Homo sapiens: one gene and its partner. The protein of the gene in region 1 interacts with the protein of each later gene in a biochemical or structural test. Each region holds a gene or a part of one and is shown on either strand. Other genes may lie near its edges.

Region 1 (7,941 bases):
TCTTCTCTGCTAAAATTTGTCTTAAGCATGTAACACAGCCATGCTTATTAATGATGAGGAGACAGCCAATGAAAATTAATTTTTTCAAAGATGAATAGATATCTAGATTTTTTCAAGCACAACTCATTTAAGAAAATATCACCTCACTGAGCCCCAAATGAGTTAGGTCTCACTTAGAAAGTGTCCCCTAGTGCCAGGTAAAGTGCCTCATATTTGCAATCCCAGCACTTCTGGAGACGGAGATAGGAGGATCTCATGAGCCCAGGAGTTCAAGACCAGCCTGGGTAACATGGCAAAACCCTGTCTCTACAGAAAATACAAAAAAAAAAAAAATAGCTGGGCGTGGTGGCGTGCACCTGTGGTCCCAGCTACTCTGGAGTCTGAGGTGGGAGAATCGCTTGAATCCAGGAGGTTAAGGCTACAGTGAGCTGTGTTTGCACCACCGCACTCCAGCCTGGGTGACAGAGCCAGCCTCTGTTTCCAAAAAAAAAAAAGAAAGAAAGGAAAAGAAAATGCCCCCGAGTTGATTACATTTTAACCACTGTGCTAACTTGAGAGATAGTCTGCTATCTCTTTACAGGACATGAGGGCTGATAATCACCTCATTGCATGGTCCTGGGGACTGATGAACAAAGGCTAACATGTGGAAAAGGGCAACTAAAGAAAGAAGAGCCACCTCCAGGTTAATTAGTACAAGTCTCCTCGCTGGTATGCCCTAATACACTAAAACAGCAGTAAAAACAATCTGCACATTGGCATCGAAGGCACAGATAAACTTGCCGAGGACCCTTACCACGGCAGAGGGATGCTTTATATGAGTCCTTAGTAGATTAATTAAGTTCTTGCTAGTTCCATTTGGAAATGATGCTGTCCTCTTGGGGCTATGCAGAGAAGTTCATGTTGATGAAATGAGCTGTCCTAGAATGGCAGTTCCCGGGCAGCAGAGCCTGGGCTCAAGGAAGGTTGAAAGAAGGGGTGGCGTGGAGCTGCCAGGTGCAAATGTCAGGCCAGCAATGCAGTCCAGCTTGCATGGACGTGCTTCGCCTAGGAAGTTGTGACTTGGCTGCATTTTCCACTTCAGGTGAGATGGAAGGTTGAACTCTACCTCACCTCCTGGTGAGGTTGATGTTTCCTGGTGTTTATAACTTTCTTTGTAAATACTTGAAAGGAATTTACCATTTTAATGCTGGAAGAGACGTCTATTCCTTCTTAAGAGGACCTGAGTGGATCTTGATTGCAGGCCTTATGCTGGGCAGAGCTAAGGAGAATTCAATTTGTCTCCAATCTTATTTGAATGTTCTTTTTTTTTTTTTTTTTTTTTTTTTTTTTGAGACAGAGTCTTGCTCTCTCACCCAGGCTGGAGTGCAATGGCACGATCTCGGCTCACTGCAACCTCTGCCTGCTGGGTTCAAGCAATTCTCCCACCTCAGCCTCCCCAGTATCTGGGACGACAGGAGCATGCCACCATGCCCTGCTAATTTTTGGTATTTTTAGTAGAGATGGGGTTTCACCATGCTGGCCAGGCTGGTCTCAAACTCCTGACCTCGTGATCCACCTGCCTTGGCCTCCCAAAGTACTGGGATTACAGGCATGAGCCACCGCGCCCAGCCTATTTGAACGTTCCTATGCCTGCTACAAGTGCAGCAGCAGAATCTCCACACATCTTGCGTGCGAAAGTTTCCTGTAGTTCCTTTAGCATAGAGAGGCTGGGGAAGGTTAGAGACTGACTTGTACTCTTTAGACATATAGTTGATCATTGAACAACACACGTCTGAACTGTTACACACAGATTTTTTTCAATAAATGTGTTAGAAAATGTTTTGGAGTTTTGCAACAATTTGAAAAAACTCAAAGACAAACCATCCAGCTAGAAATATCAACAAAAATAGAAAAAGTTAAGTATGTCATGAATGCATAAAATATATGTAGATACCTAGTCTATTTTATTCTTTACTACCATAAAATATAACAAAACTATTGCAAAAGTTAAAATTTAGTAAAAATTGTGTACACACTCACAGATCGTATATGGTGCTATTCTCAGTTGAGAGAAGTGTATACAAACATCAAGATGCAGTATTAAATTGTAACTGCATAAATTTAACCGTAGTGCATACCACACTATGGTAATAATTTCATATCCTCCTCCTGTTGCTGTTGCAATGAGCAAAGGTGTTGCGAGTATCCACTTAAAACGTTCTGTGATACTCAACATTCCATCATGAGCAGTTCATCCCCAGTGAATTGCGCATCACAGTAAAAAGTGCTCTCTCCCTGTTCGCATGTATTTTTCGTCCTGTTTCGTGCTGTACTGTAAACCTTGAATAACACCATGGGATCCAATATGAAGTGGCACTAGTGATGCTGGAAGTGCTCCCAAGAAGCAGAGAAAAGTCATGACATTTGACATTACAAGAAAAACTGGATTTGCTTGATATGTAACAGAGACTGAGGTCTGTAGCTGGGGTTGCTTCCATTTCAGACAGATGATTCATCTTGTAAACAGGTGGTGTAAACTTACTGTATGGAAAAATACATAACAGTACCACAGATGTATTTTCTCCTTACGAACATTTCCTTTTCTCTAGCTTACTTTATTGTAAGAATACAGTATATCATACATATAACATACAAAATACATGTTATTAACTGTTGCTGGTCAACAGCAGGCTGTTAGTAGTTAAGTTTTTGAGAGTCAGAGTTATACCTGGATTTTCTACTGTGTATGGTCAGTGTGCCAACCCCTGAAATTGATCAAGGGTCAACTGTAATCCTAAAAGAATCTAATACAATATTGTAAACAGTAAGTGGTCAATAAATAAGGAATTGAACTAATAAGAATACATAAATCCCAGAATATGTGCAACCTGATCATAGTACACAGAGATCTCTCTATATATCTCTTTTCTTAGTTCATGCTGTTCTTTCAGGTAGAAAGCGCCTTATTTTGAATTAGTTGTCTTTAGAGCAAAAATCCCTCCAAGAGTGCTGTGTGGTTTCCTATGCACAACCTGGAATAGTCCATTGCTTCATGCCTACCCTGGACATGAAGGGCCATGCCGCAGCGGAAGTCTCTATGCACCCACCCCCGTCTATACCTGAGCAACACATTCCTCTTTGCTGCTCTCTTACAGGCTACAGAGTGCGGTGGCGCCAGCACAGAGCTCTGCTCAACGTCCCTCTGTGCTTTCACGATGCTGATGGATTATGAAGGTAGGGAAGAATGTACAGCCAGGAGGCCATTAGGAGGGCAACTAATTTATAAAATCACATTTGTAGAATTTAATGCATCCAACAACTACCAGGGGAAAGGTGGGCAAAAGCTATACCAACACCACCCAAGTCAAAACCAAAACAACAGGAAAAGAAAATTATGTGGATGTAGAATTTCTGATAACATCATTCCCAAGGTGCCTTATCCAAGAGGAACTGCTACAATAATATTTTAAGTGGAAATAAATACATGCTGGAAGCATTATATATTAGTAGAGTATTTTTTTTTCCCAGAGTACTTTCTCAAGCACATCAACATGAGCCCCCTAAGAGACATTTCACATTAAAAATAAAATGTCTGCCCACTGCTGGTTTCTCAATCTGCCTCCACCTTCTGTCCCCTTTAATGAACTGGGCCATGAGGTGAGTCAGAGAGGATAAAGGGAGTGGTAAGAATTTGAGGAGAGAAGAGAGTGAGGCTAAAATAGGAAATCAGGAAAAGCGATTCGGTCCCCCTGTCCCTCACATGGGGCCACCCTCTTGTTGCCCAGTGTGGCTTCTTCTTGAGGGTTCTGCATGGTTCCTCAATCCCAGGGAATTCCGCAGGACATTCCACCCAAGACCATTGGGCTCCCACCTCTACTCTTTTGCCAGTTAATGAATAGGCAGGAATTTCACTGCCTGGAAAGAGGAACAATGCTTTCTGGTCCTTATTTCACATCTAAAATAGAGAGGTCAATTGATTTATTCCTAAATATCTTTGAACACTAAAATAGAAGTTTTACAGCATATATACTACCTGGTTGCTCTAGACTTAAGCCAGGGAAAAGTACAGATTCAACATTTAAAATTGAGATAGACGCTTTCCACTTAATGCTACCAGTCTTGCTTTATTTCATGAGAATGAGAATATAATAATATGGCATACGTTCATTTGGGGGAAAGATTGATGTCTTATAACATAATTTATAATTACAGAAAACATGTGAGTTCACTGGGAATAAATAAATTTTGAAGATAATAAGATACTTTCACTTATGTCGTAATTTCTATGTCATTTGGTGTAGGATGTAGAGATATTAACGTTTACACCTAACTTAAGTTTGTCATCTAAGACCTGAAGGGGTTTTGTCTATCAGCTGCACCCCTGGGTAGAGACACAACCTTGGGGAAGGCCTCAGCCCCATCCCTCGTACAGCAGGAATGAGAACAGCCCTGCCTGTTGGGAAGCTTGAGGGAGGCTATGGACGTGCAGCGCTTGGCAGAGGGTCTCGTCATGGAAGGTTCCAGCAAATGTGAGATACTTTTATGATTTCATTTTCTCCAAAAGAAAGGGAATAAGAGAAGAGGGGAGGAAATAAGACTAATTGCGAGAGATAAAGTACAAGGGTGAGGGAAGGAATAAGGAGACATGACGGCAGCGTGGAGCAGCCGAGGGGGGAGATTGCTTTCACCACTTCCCAGCATCTATTGCAGATTCCACCCTCAAACATGTTGTAAGGACTCTTTATTCAAGGTAATGTTTGAACCCTGCTGAGCCAGTGGCATGGGTCTCTGAGAGAATCATTAACTTAATTTGACTATCTGGTTTGTGGATGCGTTTACTCTCATGTAAGTCAACAACATCCTGGGATTGGGACCCACTTTCTGGGCACTGCTGGCCAGTCCCAAAATGGAACATAAGGAAGTGGTTCTTCTACTTCTTTTATTTCTGAAATCAGGTAAGACATAGTTTTTTTAAATTATAAGAATTATTTTTTCTCCCACAATGTAGTAAAAATACATATGCCATGGCTTTATGTGCAATTCATTTAATTTTTGATTCATGAAACTTCCAGTTGAAAATCTTGTATAAGATTGAGGAATTCTTCAAGAAATAAGTTTAAGTTTCCTGTGAAGATTGTCAGGGTGCTGGAATGAATGGGCAGAGAAAATAATGGGTGATTTTTCAAATCTAAATGAGTGCACCCACATAATGGCCAGTCTAATTGAAAAAGAGCCAATGTAGCTAATTATGCAAAGGACGGCTAAGCTCTTTGCCTGGTTCTCAGTTTGACTAATTTATATCATCTCTGTTACGGTGTCATGCTCCCCTCACTTGCAAGTTAAAACAGTGAAATATCTCTTTGAATATATTCCGTTCTCTCACCAGTTCATGGTGGCGGCAGGGTCGGGGACTCAGCATTTCTCCCTTTGTTATGGCCTGAGGAAGGCTTTCCATCAGTATACGTTTGCCTCTTATCCCCGGAAAAATCACACGCATCCATTTGCCAGATGCTGTGTGCAGATAGTGATCAACAAATACTCAGTTGCTTGGGTTAGGTCCCTACATTTTTACACATACATACATACCTGTGTGTGAATGTGAGTGTGAGTGTGTATCCTTTACAAATACTAGCTTATTTAGCTCGTGGTATAGGTAGGGTAGCATATTCATCCTCATTTTATAAACAAAGAAATCAGACTTAGGAATATCATGTTATTTGCTCAGTGACCAAATTCTCAGATCTGGGAAATAAAGAAAACTGGATTTAAGCCAGGTTTCCCAGAAGGAATCTAGGGCTCTTCTCACTTTTCAGCTTTGTTTAAGCCTTTGAAAGAATATTCTAAACATGTCCTAGTACTTCTTTTTCTTTAAAAAAAAAAAAGCTTTATTGAGATATAATTAACATATAGAATTCACCCATTTAGGCATACAATCCAATGGATTTCAAGATATTGAGAGTTGTGCAGCCACCATCAGAATAAATTTTAAAACTATTCATACCCCCAAAAACGCACTCCACTCTCCTTAGCTGTTACCCCCAATCTGCAGCTTCTGGCAACCACTAATCTACTTTCTGTATTTATATCTTTGCCATTTTGAACATTTCATACAAACGGAATCATACGATTTGCTAGTAGTTCTTCATGTAAATAATGTACGCTTGAAATTCAATCTATAAATTACCAGATAAAATTTTACAAGTTGCACTTTAGAGTCAAATACATTTGAATTTAGTGGAAGCCATTCAAGGAGCTATCAAAGAAAATACAGAGCAGGAGAAAATTAAAGAAATTTTTGTAAGAAATTGGTGTATGTTGGGGGGTATGAATATTATATTTCAATGCATGGAAACTAGGACATAGATCACTATGAACTTATTCAGTGGGCTACACCCAAAGGCTAGATCAAACTTCTCTGCCACAGGATTAACATATGTTTTAACCCACCTGGTGGGCACATTCTCTCATAAGCTCTTTTGGAAAGCCAGGTTTTCTGTGGATGTATCATCTTTCCAGTGTGCTGCAATGCCCGGGGAGAGGGAAAAGTTTCTTTTACAGCCATGCTTAGTGGGAAGTGGAGAAACATCTTCCATTTCACAAATTAAGTCTTTTACACATGCAAATATGCATACACATTCACACACCACAGTGAGGAAGAAATTCTCACACCATTAATAAAATACATTTGCATCAGTAGCAATATACATCTGCATTTTGCCTATAATATAAATGTATTTTTCCACTAAAAGATTTGTTTGATGTTTCCTTGCCAGCAAATAAGCCCTATCAAATCCTATTGCCATATGAGTCCTAGAGGTGAATAAGAGAAGAAAAAATGGGGGAAAATTATTTCAAACTGAAAAGAGAAAAGTTTGATTCTGTTTTGGGATATTTCCTAGGGACATGAGCTGGGGAGGGGATCTCAGCAGCGATGCGCTATGAAGCATAGTAACATAACACAGAGAACTTAATTGAAGGGGGAAATAAATGGAAGTTTTCTTTTTTTGAATATCAGTTGTAGCCTGCTCTGCTATACTTCAAAAAAACTCTTCAGAAAGTTTAACTGAACTCACTGTAGGACACACTTTGTGGATTTATTGTGTGTTTTGAAGTCACACTGTGAGCTATATAGAATTAACCAAAACACAACTCTTCTTGAAAATGAGAGTTCAAGTTGGCAGAAAGTGCGGGGTAAAGACATGGATATGGGCCTAAAGCATCTATTTCTTTGTGATCTTTTGATATATCTCTCAAGTGCTTTTTAGTGGATTAGCTTTAGAATGCATCAGCCAACTCCTGCTCAATAATCCATTTTTCCAGCCCGGAATGTCTTAAATTGAGGAAGGACAAAGTCCCAGAGGTGGGGAGCAGGGGGACTTTGGCCGAGGACTTTGCATGAATCGATGAGCATGCATCCACCTCCCTGTCCTGCCCCTTGTGCTCTGTGTACCCTCAGGAGGTCAGGACAGGCCTTTCTGAGAATGAAAATCTGTTCATTTGCTTTCCTACTGGATACTTGTCATCAGCATACAAACCAATGCGCTCTGCAGTGTGTCATCTTTCAGAACCTCCCCTGACCGCATGTTCCCTGGAGGGCTCGCTGTCTTCAGAGCCAGGCTTGTCTCCTGCTGCAGCCTCCACTGCTCTCCTAGTCACTCTGTAACCCACCCCCTCTGCCTGCGGCCCCCACCACGCCCCTCAAAGTGGTCAAGGTTGTCCTGTTGTCTAATTCCATGGAGCTTGCCTGTCTTCATTTTATTAGCCTCTTTTGGCCTCTCACCCTTGTGCAAATCACTAGCATTCTGTGCCAAGGACGGAGCTGGCATCTCCAGGCTTGGAATAGAGCTACCAAAGCTCAGCCAGATGTCTGGAAGAGCCTCAGGACAAGGGGACACCCTGTAGCCTTGTGGTGGGAGCACAGCTGAGGCCCCCTTGGCCACCCTCTGCCACGACCAGGCAGAA
Region 2 (2,636 bases), on another chromosome or scaffold:
GAAGTCATAGCAGGGCCTAATAAGTGGTTATGCCAAGGGGTCCCTGCAGCTCAGAGGCTCAAGTCTGATGCCTGTGTCCTGCGACAGGCACTAGACTGGGGCTGTCAGGGCCTCCACCCGGCACCACAGGTGACTGGATGGCGGGGACCATCAGGGAGGGGCGACCTGATCTCAGGAAACAGAGCCCGTGTCCCCACCTGGCGCTGCCTCTGCATGGCCCAGCTCAGGTGTGGCTGGGGACGGGGAGAGGAAGGAACCTGGAGGCCCTCAGCAAGTGTGCTTTAATCCCTGCACACACTCTTTGAGGCAGGTCAGCATTCCCGTTTTACAGATGAGGAAACTGAGGCTCAGAGCTAACAAAGTCACTTGCTCAAGATCCCACAGCCAGGAAGTGGCCCAGAAAGGAGGTCCCCAGGAGGACTGAACCTCCCTTTGTCCCTTCGCCCAAATCCAGTGCATCTCACTCCACTCTTAAGTTGAGAGGCGAAAAAATTCAGAGGAAAGAGCCCAGAACAGATTTATTTTTCTTTAGATAAAGTTCATACAGAATATGTTACAGTCAGGAGTTCTCAGCTTTCACCAAAAGGTCAGAAGTTATTGCAGTTGTGCCCAGTGGATAGGATGGAGGAAGGGAAACTTCTAGAAAGCTGCCTGTGTTCAGAGAAGGAATCGTCAATGTTTAAAGTTGTGGGGCTGCCCTGCAAAGGATGTTCCAGGGCAGGTAGGAGTCAGGAGTAGGAGACAAGGCGCGTAGGGGGCGATAGGGTGGCCTGGGCTTGGGCAGGCTGGAGGCTGCCTCCCTACCGGAAGCAGCATCCGGGCCATCTGGCCAGGACCTGCCAAGGGGACAGCAGAGCCAGGGCCACAGGGTGCCCTGGGGCCAGCCCTGCCAGCCGGTGTCTCAGCCCCGCCGTAGTGCCTGCAGCTGGTGGGCCACTTTCTCCAGCTCTGCTTCAATGGCCGACAGGCTCTCCAGCTCCTGGTCCTAGGAGAGACATTGGGGTTCACTCGGGCCAGCCTGGCCAGTGGCATGGAAGGCACAGTAAGCCAGAAAGGCGCTGGGTTAGCTGTGTGGCCTCGGACAGGTGGCTTTGTCTCTCTGTACCCTCATCCATCATGGAGACAGTGATAATGAGCTTACTGTACTGCTCTCGGGATCATTATGCACAAGAAGGTGGCTGATGCCGGGGGCCCTGTCCCCACACTGCTCTTGGTGGCCTCTTATCCAGGCCCCACTTCCTCTCAAATGGTTCCGCACAGGTGGGAGTCTGTTCTTTTAGGGCACATGGAAAACAAAGCTTACAGTGCCCTGAAGAGCCCCCTTCCCTCGGCCTAGCCCATGGTTGCCAGGACCCAGGGTGAGGCCAGCCTGGGACTTCCGGGTCTGTCTTCTGCAGCCTTCCCACCTGAGGGGAATGTGGGGCCTGAGACAGGGCTACATGCTGGGGGAGCTGCCCCACATCAGCCTGCCTAGGGCTGGGCTTTGATCCCTGGTCCTGATTGTGAGAGGATCCCGAACTCTGGCTACCCAAGTTTAGGGAAGCAGGGACCCCTCCTCTGAGCCCTGTTCTATGCCCGTCTGCAGAAGCTTTCAGGCCTCAGAACTTGGACACCCACAAGAGCACAACCTCAAGACTTAGAGCAGGAGCGCAGGGAAGGCTGCCTCCTTTGACCTGGGAGGGGTCATTTTCCCGGGGTCACTGCCAGATTTGAGGCTGCCGAGGGCATCCTGGCCCAGGGACCCCGACATTGCAGGCCGTGGAAATAGACTCTACAGCCCCTTAGTCTTGGAGGAGGCCCTGGGGCAGGTGCTCTGCGAGGCTCGGGTTTCTAAGAAGACCCTTGGGCTGTGTTGAGGAGGCCCCCACCCCATCCTCTCCATATGCCTCAGGGGTCCAGTTTCTCTGCCCTGCGGTCCAGAGCTCCCTCTGCTTGTGGAGAAAGGAAGCTGGTGGCACCTCTGGGCCCCCATTCTCTCCAGCTTTGTCCTCAGCCCCTCGCCCTGGGCTCCCAGGCACGTGGGCAGATGCCCTCTCCCGCTACAGCTGCCAACATGGAGCCTTCTTCCTCTCAGACTGCCAGGCCCAGAGAGGGGGTCGGGGGCCCAGTGAAGGGGCCACACCCTCTTCTAGGTGGGCAGAGAAGAGCCTTGGGGTCAGGGCTGCGGACAGGTGTCAGCCTTCCCACAGAGCCTGGGTTCCTACCTGGACACTAGGCTTGAACCAGGTATCCCAGCCGCCTAGCTGCCAGGGACCCCAACTCCCCCCTGCTCCTGTGGGCTGTGTCCCCACGCCCCATTTGTCTTCCCCAGGGGCCCTGGTTTTCAAAGCCTTTGTGTGTTCCAATCATGGTAATGACGTGGGCAGAGGAGACTCCTTACCCCTACTTCATAAATGGAACTGATGAGGCTCGGGGAGGGGAGTGACCCTCCCAAGTCCACGCAGCCAAGAGGAGGCAGAGCCCAGGTCTTCCAGCTCACATCCGGTGTGGCTCCCACCCACTCCCCACAGGCAAGAGATCCCTTGGCCCTGCCCCTGCCCTGCCCCGTTACCCTCATGGGCCAGAGGCAGGGCCTGAGCCTGGGAGGAGGCTGTGCCTGGGCTGCCTGGGGGCCAGGAGGGGACACGGTCAGACCC

What was found.
Region 2: of the proteins of PLG (region 1) and CHGA, one has a biochemical effect on the other in vitro, tested with the Homo sapiens proteins (one study listed by BioGRID).

The regions. Positions count from the first base shown.
Region 1 is NC_000006.12:160,697,420-160,705,360, forward strand, and holds the start of PLG (plasminogen isoform 1 precursor), read left to right. Parts: upstream 1-4,824; 5' UTR 4,825-4,885; coding exon 4,886-4,934; intron 4,935-7,941. UniProt on the Homo sapiens protein: Plasmin dissolves the fibrin of blood clots and acts as a proteolytic factor in a variety of other processes including embryonic development, tissue remodeling, tumor invasion, and inflammation. In ovulation, weakens the walls of the Graafian follicle.
Region 2 is NC_000014.9:92,933,150-92,935,785, reverse strand, and holds the end of CHGA (chromogranin-A isoform 1 preproprotein), read right to left. Parts: intron 986-2,636; coding exon 902-985; 3' UTR 501-901; downstream 1-500.